Linked DNA regions of Homo sapiens: all the other regions are linked to region 3. Evidence: fine-mapped expression QTL. A gene starts in region 3. Each other region holds a variant in brackets. All regions are shown on one strand. Distances are between the middles of the regions.

Region 1 (2,767 bases), 150 kb before region 3:
TGAGGAGTCTACAAAAACTGTGGGCAATCCAAGAAGGCTGGTTATTTTCCTGCTTTCTGCCAACCCAAAGCAAACTGCTCTGCCATGTCTGTTTGTATTTCCTGAATCCTGAGCCCTCAAAACACTGCTTTATGAAGTCAACAATGCCAAAACTGAAATTTGCATTTCTATTCTAAGATATAGCTGACAAAATGTCCTTTTCTCCTGCATCCTCTCAGAGAACACTTAATAACATCTAAGTTTATTTTCTAAGGATCAAGAAAACAAAGTTTTCTCATGAATTGCTGAATGATAGTTTTTCTTGCCAAGGGCTAAAAATTCAGGATACCCCCAAATCAAATTTTCCTAAAACAAAATATATTACAGGTGATTTGCTGCAATCATGAAACACAGCCTTCCGAGACTTCATATTCAATCTAGTAGGTTCGAAACATCTAAAATGATTCAGTTTCATAACAGAGGTTGGGTGCTGCAGTCAGTTCTAAGATAACCAAATTGTAGAGAGATTCTTAAAGTGACTTAACGTGACTGGATCTGGTTTTACACTTTCAGGCGAGTTCAGTTTAAAGTAATAAGATTGTTGGAGGTGATGAGGAGACAGAACTTCCAGTGAGTTATGTCAGAAATCTTGTATGGGTTTGAGAAAATAGCAAACTCAAAGGTCTGCGGGCTGTATCTCTTTCTCTCGTGGAGACTGAATGGGTGGGAGGATAAGACTGCCTTTCCTACGCAAAAGAGCAATCTCCTCCTTTAAGGCCGAAATCCTTTCCGCCTGGAGTTGGATCAATTCAGTGACCTCCTCTCTTGCCACAACATCTGCTTCCCGAGGGCCCTGGAAGGCATTGCCCTGTTGAAAGAAAACAGCTCCCTGTTGAAGCATCATTTGGCATGTGAAAAACTCCATGCCCTTATACTGTGTATCTGTGATGAGTGCTGGCCTGACAGTCACCCTAAACAGCCACTGTTCCTTAATCTCGGGAGCCTTCAATTCCTCTGCTAAAATCCCACCATTAGAAATGTGTGCCTTTGGGCTAATAAACAACTCTTCAAGTGCAAATCCTCTTTGGATGAGTACACTTTAAGCTAGCTATCAGTCATTCATTACCTAAAGAGCTCATCACTGGAATAATAAAAGACAGAGTATGTCTTTCTTTTTCTGGACAGCCCATATTTGGGTTCCCAGAATGAAATCTTCTGTTTC[C/T]TCATCGGAGTTATTTCCCTGTCCAGCTGACTCCTACTCATGTTTCACACATCACTTTCAGGGAGGCCTTCTTTGCCCCATGGACTAGGTTAGGATTTCCTGCTTTCTGTTTTATCGAAACATCCATTATACATATACATCACTATAATTTACAGAATATTACATGGTTCATTCTGAACCATGTAATATTTATGATATTTGACCATTTTTTAAATCTAAAACAATGGCAATTTAATATAGCATGACCAAAGTGCTTGTTTGATACCTATCTTTCCTGCGAGATCCTGTCTTTTAGAAACAGGGCTCCATATGACTAAGTCTCATCACTCTGCCAATACCTGCCCTAGTGCTTTCTACATAAGTAGATGCTCAATAACATTTGAATGCATGAATACATCTGTGAAAGGAAAGACATAATACTTGCGTGGTGCCCACTTTGTGCAAGGTGCTTTGCATATGCTCTCTCATCTAATCCCCAAAATGACTCTGAACTGGGTGGTATCATTCCAGTTTTACAGATAAGGACATTGAGACTCAGGGAGTCATTAACTAGCCAAGTCAAGCTGGAAGCAGAGTTAGAAACAGGTTGCCTGATGCTAAAAGTCCATACTTTTTCCATTACTCCTATGTACTATAGCAGACCTTCATAGTAAGGGTTACCCAACACCCTCTGCCTCTTCTCCCTTGCTCACTTTTATTTTAGAGCCCATGAAAGCTAAACACTTAACCTTACCCATTTTCTCTTCCAGCTAGAGAGAGCTAAGTGGATATAATCTGAAACTTTTGCTCCTTAATAAAAGGGACAGAAGAGGCTGGTGCATGGATGTGAAACATGGGAGCTGAAGCAGCTGTCATGTGACTTTGAAGGAAACTTTAGGAAAATCACAGAGATATGGGCTCTGGCATCATGGTCCTACAAAACCAAAGCGTGTAGTCATCTCCCTCTAGACTTCTTGTCAAGTGAGAAAAATGACTCCTATTTGTTTAAGGTACTCTCAATAGGGCTTTTGGTTGCTTGTAGCTAAAAGCATGCCTCATACACCAACTCATGCCCAGTCATTCCAGTGGGTTACTTTGAAGTCACCTCACTTTCCCCTTCTCCTCACCAGACTCAATCAAATTTTGGTTATTCTTACTTTGAGATGGCTTTTGATATTTGACACATTTTTGTTGTCACCAACTATATCCCAATTCCTGCCTACATCATTGTAAGAAGCAATGGAGTCAGCGTTGGAGGCAGACAGACCTGAATTTCAAAACTAACTTCACCATGCATTAGCTCTAAGAGCTTCAGCAAGTTACTCAGCTCCTCTGAGCTTTAGAAAGTACTGTTTTGGGGATTAAATGAAATATCCTATGTGAAGAGGCCATACATGTAAACATATACTGTGTAAAGAGACAGATAACTAGTAACTTCCTCTCCCATTCAGCTGATCTCCTGCCTCTAAGCTGTTTCCTCTCCAATGTATCTGGACTGATCAAAGCACATCGACTCAACAAATGTTGACTGACTACTCAGTCTGTGAAGATTTGGGTTAGGTATTAACCTTCTCAAACACTGCCTTG
Region 2 (2,767 bases), 910 kb after region 3:
ACATCAAAAGGCAGAAAAAATCATTTTTATTTTAAACTCAAAGAAATAGACAGTTGTGAAATTAACTGATTTGTTGAAGGACACACAGGCATTTAGAGGAAACAAAACTGGATCCAAATCATCTAATTACAGTACAATCGTCTTTCATTTATGCCTCTACTTTAAATTTTTGGGTTATAATCACTATGAAATATGCTTTACAACTAAAGCTTCCTTGATTCTTAAAGGTAGAGCTTAGCTCCAAAGCCAATATGATGGACTACTTCTTTGTCTCAAACAGATTTTTTTTTTTTTTTTTTTTGATACAGAGTCCTGCTATGTTGCCCGGGGTGGAGTGCAGTGGTGTGATCTCCGCTCACTGTAACCTCTGCCTTCTGGGCTCAAGTGATCTTCCCATTTCAGCGTCCCAAGTAGCTGGAACTATAGGCATGCAGCACCATGCCTGGTTAATTTTTATAGTTTTTGTAGAGCTGGGGTCTTGCCAAGTTGTCCAGGCTGGTCTCAAACTCCTCGGCTCAAGTGATCCACCCACCTTTACCTCCCAAAGTCCTGGGATTACAGGCGTGAGCCACCATGCCTGGCCCCAAACACTTTCTTTCATGAATGTGGATCATTAACATAGAGCAGTACAAGATTTTAATTGGAATATGAATCTTATAATTTATTCTCTTCAGGTTTTTTTTTTTTTTTTTTTTTTTTTTTTTTTTTAAGAGATAGGTACCCAGGTTGGCCTCGAAACTCCTGGGCTCAAGTGATCTTCCCGCCTCAGCCTCCTGAGTATCTGGGACTATTGGTGTGTACCATCACACACAATTTATATCTGCAGTTGTTGAAAGCAACTACCATCTATATTAAACTTTGGAGTTACTGAATTGCTAAGACAGTTACTCTGCAGGTCTATTGGTTTGCATAGCAGCTGTAATGGAGAGAACTCAAATTTCTTTTTAACTTTGTCAAGCTATTCTTTTTTTTTAGGACTCTTTTTGGTTAGAGTATGGGTGGGAACACAGAGTCCAACTCTACTCTTACAAGTATCCCCGTGCTTTCTAGAATCTTTTTATACTAACATTTGGACTTTTTGCTTTGAATTTTTATCACTTCCACTGGGCTCTTGGAAAGTTTTGAGGCTCC[A/AT]TTTTTTTATGTTTTCCCTAGAAATTGAAAAGAACTTTGTTTGGAAATGCGAGCTACAATGAACCCAGGTCTTGAATTATTTCCACATGTTCCGGCTGTCTTGCTTTTTGAAATCTAGACCAATTGTTCTAAAACTTTGTTAGGTTAGGGGATCCTTCAGTTAGACAATAGTCTTGAAAGACTGATAGGATTTCCAAACTGCCACTGCCAAATAATTCTGGAATGAAAGGGAAGAGCATTACTTCTTTTAAATTAGGTGCCTGATTGATATATGCACATTATTATTTTCAGATGGGGCTATATTATACACACCATTACAATAACATTCATAATTTACTGAGGATGTTCATAATTTACTAGAAAACTGAAGTCCACATTTTAAGCATAACTCAGATTTATAAAATGACTCTACCTATAGCTTTTGCATCTGTGTCTGAGTGCACAAATCCTTTGCTGGTTTTCTTATGTCCAAATCTAGTTATCTCGGTTAACCACAGAATCCTTCAGTGAATCCATTGGAGAAATGTATTTATACATCACGAAGATACTTTTTGGTAGTACATTGAAAATTTTATGTTGCAAATTTAAAGACTTATTTTATTATGTGATCTAACAGAATGTGTGAATTTTACATCTGATAGGTCTACTTGAAGAGATGTACAGAGGGGAGAGCAGATATGTTTATGGATCCAAGACCAGCAAAGTCAACTTTGGTTAAGGAGATACTTTCACAGATGGTCCTTCCTGCACCCCTCCCCCATGTTCCTTAATTTAATGGCTTATAAATCAGCTATCCAGGGGAGGAAAGGATATAAACTATGTGACAGCACTCTATAAATCATAAGATGCTACAAAATAAAAACATTACTATTTGATTAATTCACCTAATAATGGTGATATCCATACCATATGGAAAATTTCTTGTGATTTACCTCTGGTTATTAGTACATTCACATTTATCCCAAGTAAACAAAGCAACTCACCACTACCCAAGTTTCTTCATAAATTCAGTAGTGAGTCACTCTGTTTATTTGGAAGTGTGAATACTGTGATCTTTAAAAACTGATTCTCATAAAAGTACATACATTAATTTACATAATGTCCTGACTTACATTACCCTGCAAAGAAGGCAAAGTTCATCTTAAGCAACGTTCTGTTTCAGTTGTACAATTCCATGTTTGATGCCTTGCCTCTATCTCTGTTGCTTTCCTTCCCTTCAGTCCCCAATCTAAACTTCACTGTTTTATGTCTTCTCTCTTGGATTCCTACTAGCTGATCTGAGAAACAAGGTTGTTTTGAGAAACTAATTTGTTTTCATGTATCAGAATTCGAGTATGTAACTTTTCCCTGGTAAATTATTTGTCATTTAATAAGGGTATTCTGAGGCCAGGCACAGTGGCTCATGCCTGTAATCTCATAACTTTGGGAGGCTGAGGCAGGCAGATGGCTTGAGCTCAGGAGTTTGAGACCATCTTAGGCAACATGGTAAGACCCTGTCTCTACAAAAAATAAAAAAGTTAAATGAGCGTGGTGGCATGTGCCTGTAGACCCAGCTACTTGGGAGGCTGAAGTGGGAGGATTGCTTCAGTCCGGGAGGTTGAGGCTGCAGTGAGCCGAGATCATGCTACTGCACTCC
Region 3 (2,767 bases):
AGCAGCGTATTTACTCTGAATCCGTTCCTCTCACCCAATTCATGTAGATGATTTCCAAGTCCTGTTACTTGGTGTCCAGTGATTAAGCCTTTTGAATTCCTCCCCTCCCTTCATTCCTACTGTCCCTGCTGTCCCTCTGTAGTTCCAGTCCTCACTGTGTCTCACCTCTACCATTACTGTACCGTCATACTTTGTCTTCCCTTCTGTAACCCATTTTCTACACTATCGCTTGTATTTCTAAAACACAGCTTTTAATGTGTCACTCTTGCTTAAAACCTCTAATGGCTCATCACTGCTATCAAATAAGAGCTCAGATTCCTCGGTCTGGTGTAAAGGTCCCTTGTCAGAGGGTCTGTAGCTTATTGCAGCCCAGCTACAGTCACCCTCTCTCTCTCCCTAGCCTCCTTAGCCTTCTCCTCTCAAAGATTTTCATCAGTACGCACCCTTAGCAACTCATGATAGACTGGACACACTGAGCAGCACACATGTATGCGACTGTCTTTACCTATTATCCGACAAATATTTATGTGCACCTACTATGTGTCATGCATGTGCTAAGCACTTTACTTGTATTATCCTGTTTAATAATAACTCCATGAGGTCACATTATCACCTTTCTTTCTGGAGATGAGGAAGCCGAAGTGCAGAGGGCCCAGCGTGCCAAGCGTCGCACCCAGCTGAGCGCAGGGCAGGTGTCTCACTGGAGCGGGGAGCCCCAGCACCTTCCCAGCTGACTCGCTGCTGCTCTGACTTGGCCGGGTCTAAGCTGTGCTCCTGCTGCCTGGCTGGCTTCCGCCCGGTCAGACTGACAGGGTCTTGCAGGCAGGAACCGTGCACACAGTGTCTAGCTCCGAGCCTGAGAATACTCGTGGCTTCAAAAGTTTGCTGAGCTACCGCAGGGAGGACGAAGGCTATAACACTGGTCCAGCCTGAGAGAAGCCCAAGTGGGGTTCACTGCCCTCTGAGCCACAGATTTAAGGGGGAGGGTGTGGAAACTGCCGGCTGCTGAGGTCCAAACTCACCGAAGGTACTGACCGCCGCGGCTCCTCTCTTCACAGCGTCTGCCGGAGGCCTCCGTTTACTCCGGTTACCGAGACAACGCCACCCCTCTTCCAGGGAGGCGGAACCAGGGCGGGCCGTGGGGCGCATGCGCGGCCGGCGTCCAGCTCTCCGGGAACCCGGTACCTATCCGCCCTTTGGTCGGGCCTTCTCCGCCTCATGACACTGGTTCAAAGCCAAACAGAAAAGCCCGACGAGTTTATTATCCCCTAAAGGACGTCATGTAGATAATTAAATGACATGAATACCGTCGAAGATACCTGCCTGATATTCCAAAATGGCCCAACGGAGCCCTGATCGCGGCGTTCCTATGTTGAGGTTTTAACTTCGATTTTAAGAGGGGTCCTGGGAGATAGTAGGCAGCTTGCCGGCAACATCAACAACAAAGATACATCGTGGGATTTTTGTTATTTTTAAAACTATATTATCTCTGTTGGCTTTTAAGAGTAAATCAGGTTTTATGTTGTGGGTTTCTTGGTCGCAGCGCTCTGGGCACAAAAGTATAGGCCTCCCTTGACAGATTTCTAGGTTTAGCAGTTTGTTCAACCTCTCTGTAGTACTGTGGTCATATTGTTTTTTAAAGTACCTAGCCTAACGTTATTAGTTACCAAATACTTGTTTTAAAATGGTCATTCCAATATGTGACAAAGGACTTTGTATACAGAATGTATAAAGAACTCTTATAATTCAATAAGAAAAAACCACCCAATTTCTTAAATGGGCAAAGGATTTGAATACTTCACCAAATCAGATATATGTATGGCCAATAAGCACATGGATAGATGCTTAAAAGTAGTCATAAGGGAAATAGAAACCACAATACACATAACTCCACATCCACGTGAAGGGGTAAAACTTCAAAGATTGCTAACACCAAATGCAGAAGGATATGGAGCAACTGGAACTCGCATACACTGCTGTTGGGAATGTAAAATGGCATAACCACTTTGGAAAACTATTTGAGAGGTTTCTTCAAAAGTTAAACATACACAAAGTCATTCCACATCCAAGATAGTCTAGAGACTTGGGCAAAGTGGTTGCCTAGGACTTAGTGAGATGCACTGGAAAGAGACACAAGGAATCTTAGAAATGATAGAAATGCTGTGTCTTCATTGTGGTGGTAATTTCATGGGTATATACAACTGCCAAAAGCCAATAAACTGTTCTCTTTAAATGGATGTCATTTATTGTATATAAATTATTTGTCAATAAAATTGGCAAGAAAAAATTGCTATAATACAATTTGTGTTTATTAGTTTCCACAATGTTACACAAATACCATGCATTTATTTGCAATACTGAAATGTCCTCTTTAATCAAGATTTTCCAGGGCTTAAAAAAATGATTATCCTTGCTATTACTTATTAAATGGTATATCTAGGTGCCAGAAAAGATAGAAAACATAGGGTAAACTTATTTTTAAATAGCATGTTATTTATATTTTCAAATCATATGCCCAGCATGTTTTCTTTCAATCTCTAGACATCTTTTCAGGTGAAATACCTCTAAATTTCAAGCACTGTGTGCAATTGTTAATCTGAGAAAGATACAATAAATTCACTATACAATGTCTTAAAAATTGGAAACATGGGGGAAATAGTGTATTTATTTATTTATATACCAAAAAAAATTGGCAGTGATCATTACTGAGTGTTGTGAGCCAAGCTCTGATCTCAGCCCATTTACATACACTTGCCTCACTTAATCC

Evidence for each region.
Region 1: its variant is fine-mapped to the expression of CFAP44 in left ventricle (GTEx, PIP 0.93).
Region 2: its variant is fine-mapped to the expression of CFAP44 in prostate (GTEx, PIP above 0.99).

Annotation. Positions count from the first base shown.
Region 1 is chr3:113,290,902-113,293,668 of GRCh38, forward strand. CFAP44 (cilia and flagella associated protein 44) reads right to left here. Exons shown (of 35, transcript NM_001164496.2): 35 at 1-847. The coding sequence ends at 656. SPICE1-CFAP44 (SPICE1-CFAP44 readthrough (NMD candidate)) reads right to left here. Exons shown (of 52, transcript NR_183050.1): 52 at 1-847. Among named protein-coding and RNA genes, the nearest start is that of BOC, 81 kb to the left of the region's middle. The variant C/T (reference allele first, on the strand shown) is at 1,202.
Region 2 is chr3:114,346,403-114,349,169 of GRCh38, forward strand. All of the region lies in intron 11 of ZBTB20 (zinc finger and BTB domain containing 20), which reads right to left. Among named protein-coding and RNA genes, the nearest start is that of ZBTB20-AS1, 4.0 kb to the right of the region's middle. The variant A/AT (reference allele first, on the strand shown) is at 1,132.
Region 3 is chr3:113,440,431-113,443,197 of GRCh38, forward strand. It overlaps CFAP44 (cilia and flagella associated protein 44), which reads right to left and starts at 1,063. Exons shown (of 35, transcript NM_001164496.2): 1 at 1,023-1,063. SPICE1 (spindle and centriole associated protein 1) reads right to left here. Exons shown (of 18, transcript NM_144718.4): 18 at 2,288-2,767. It overlaps SPICE1-CFAP44 (SPICE1-CFAP44 readthrough (NMD candidate)), which reads right to left. Exons shown (of 52, transcript NR_183050.1): 20 at 1,023-1,224.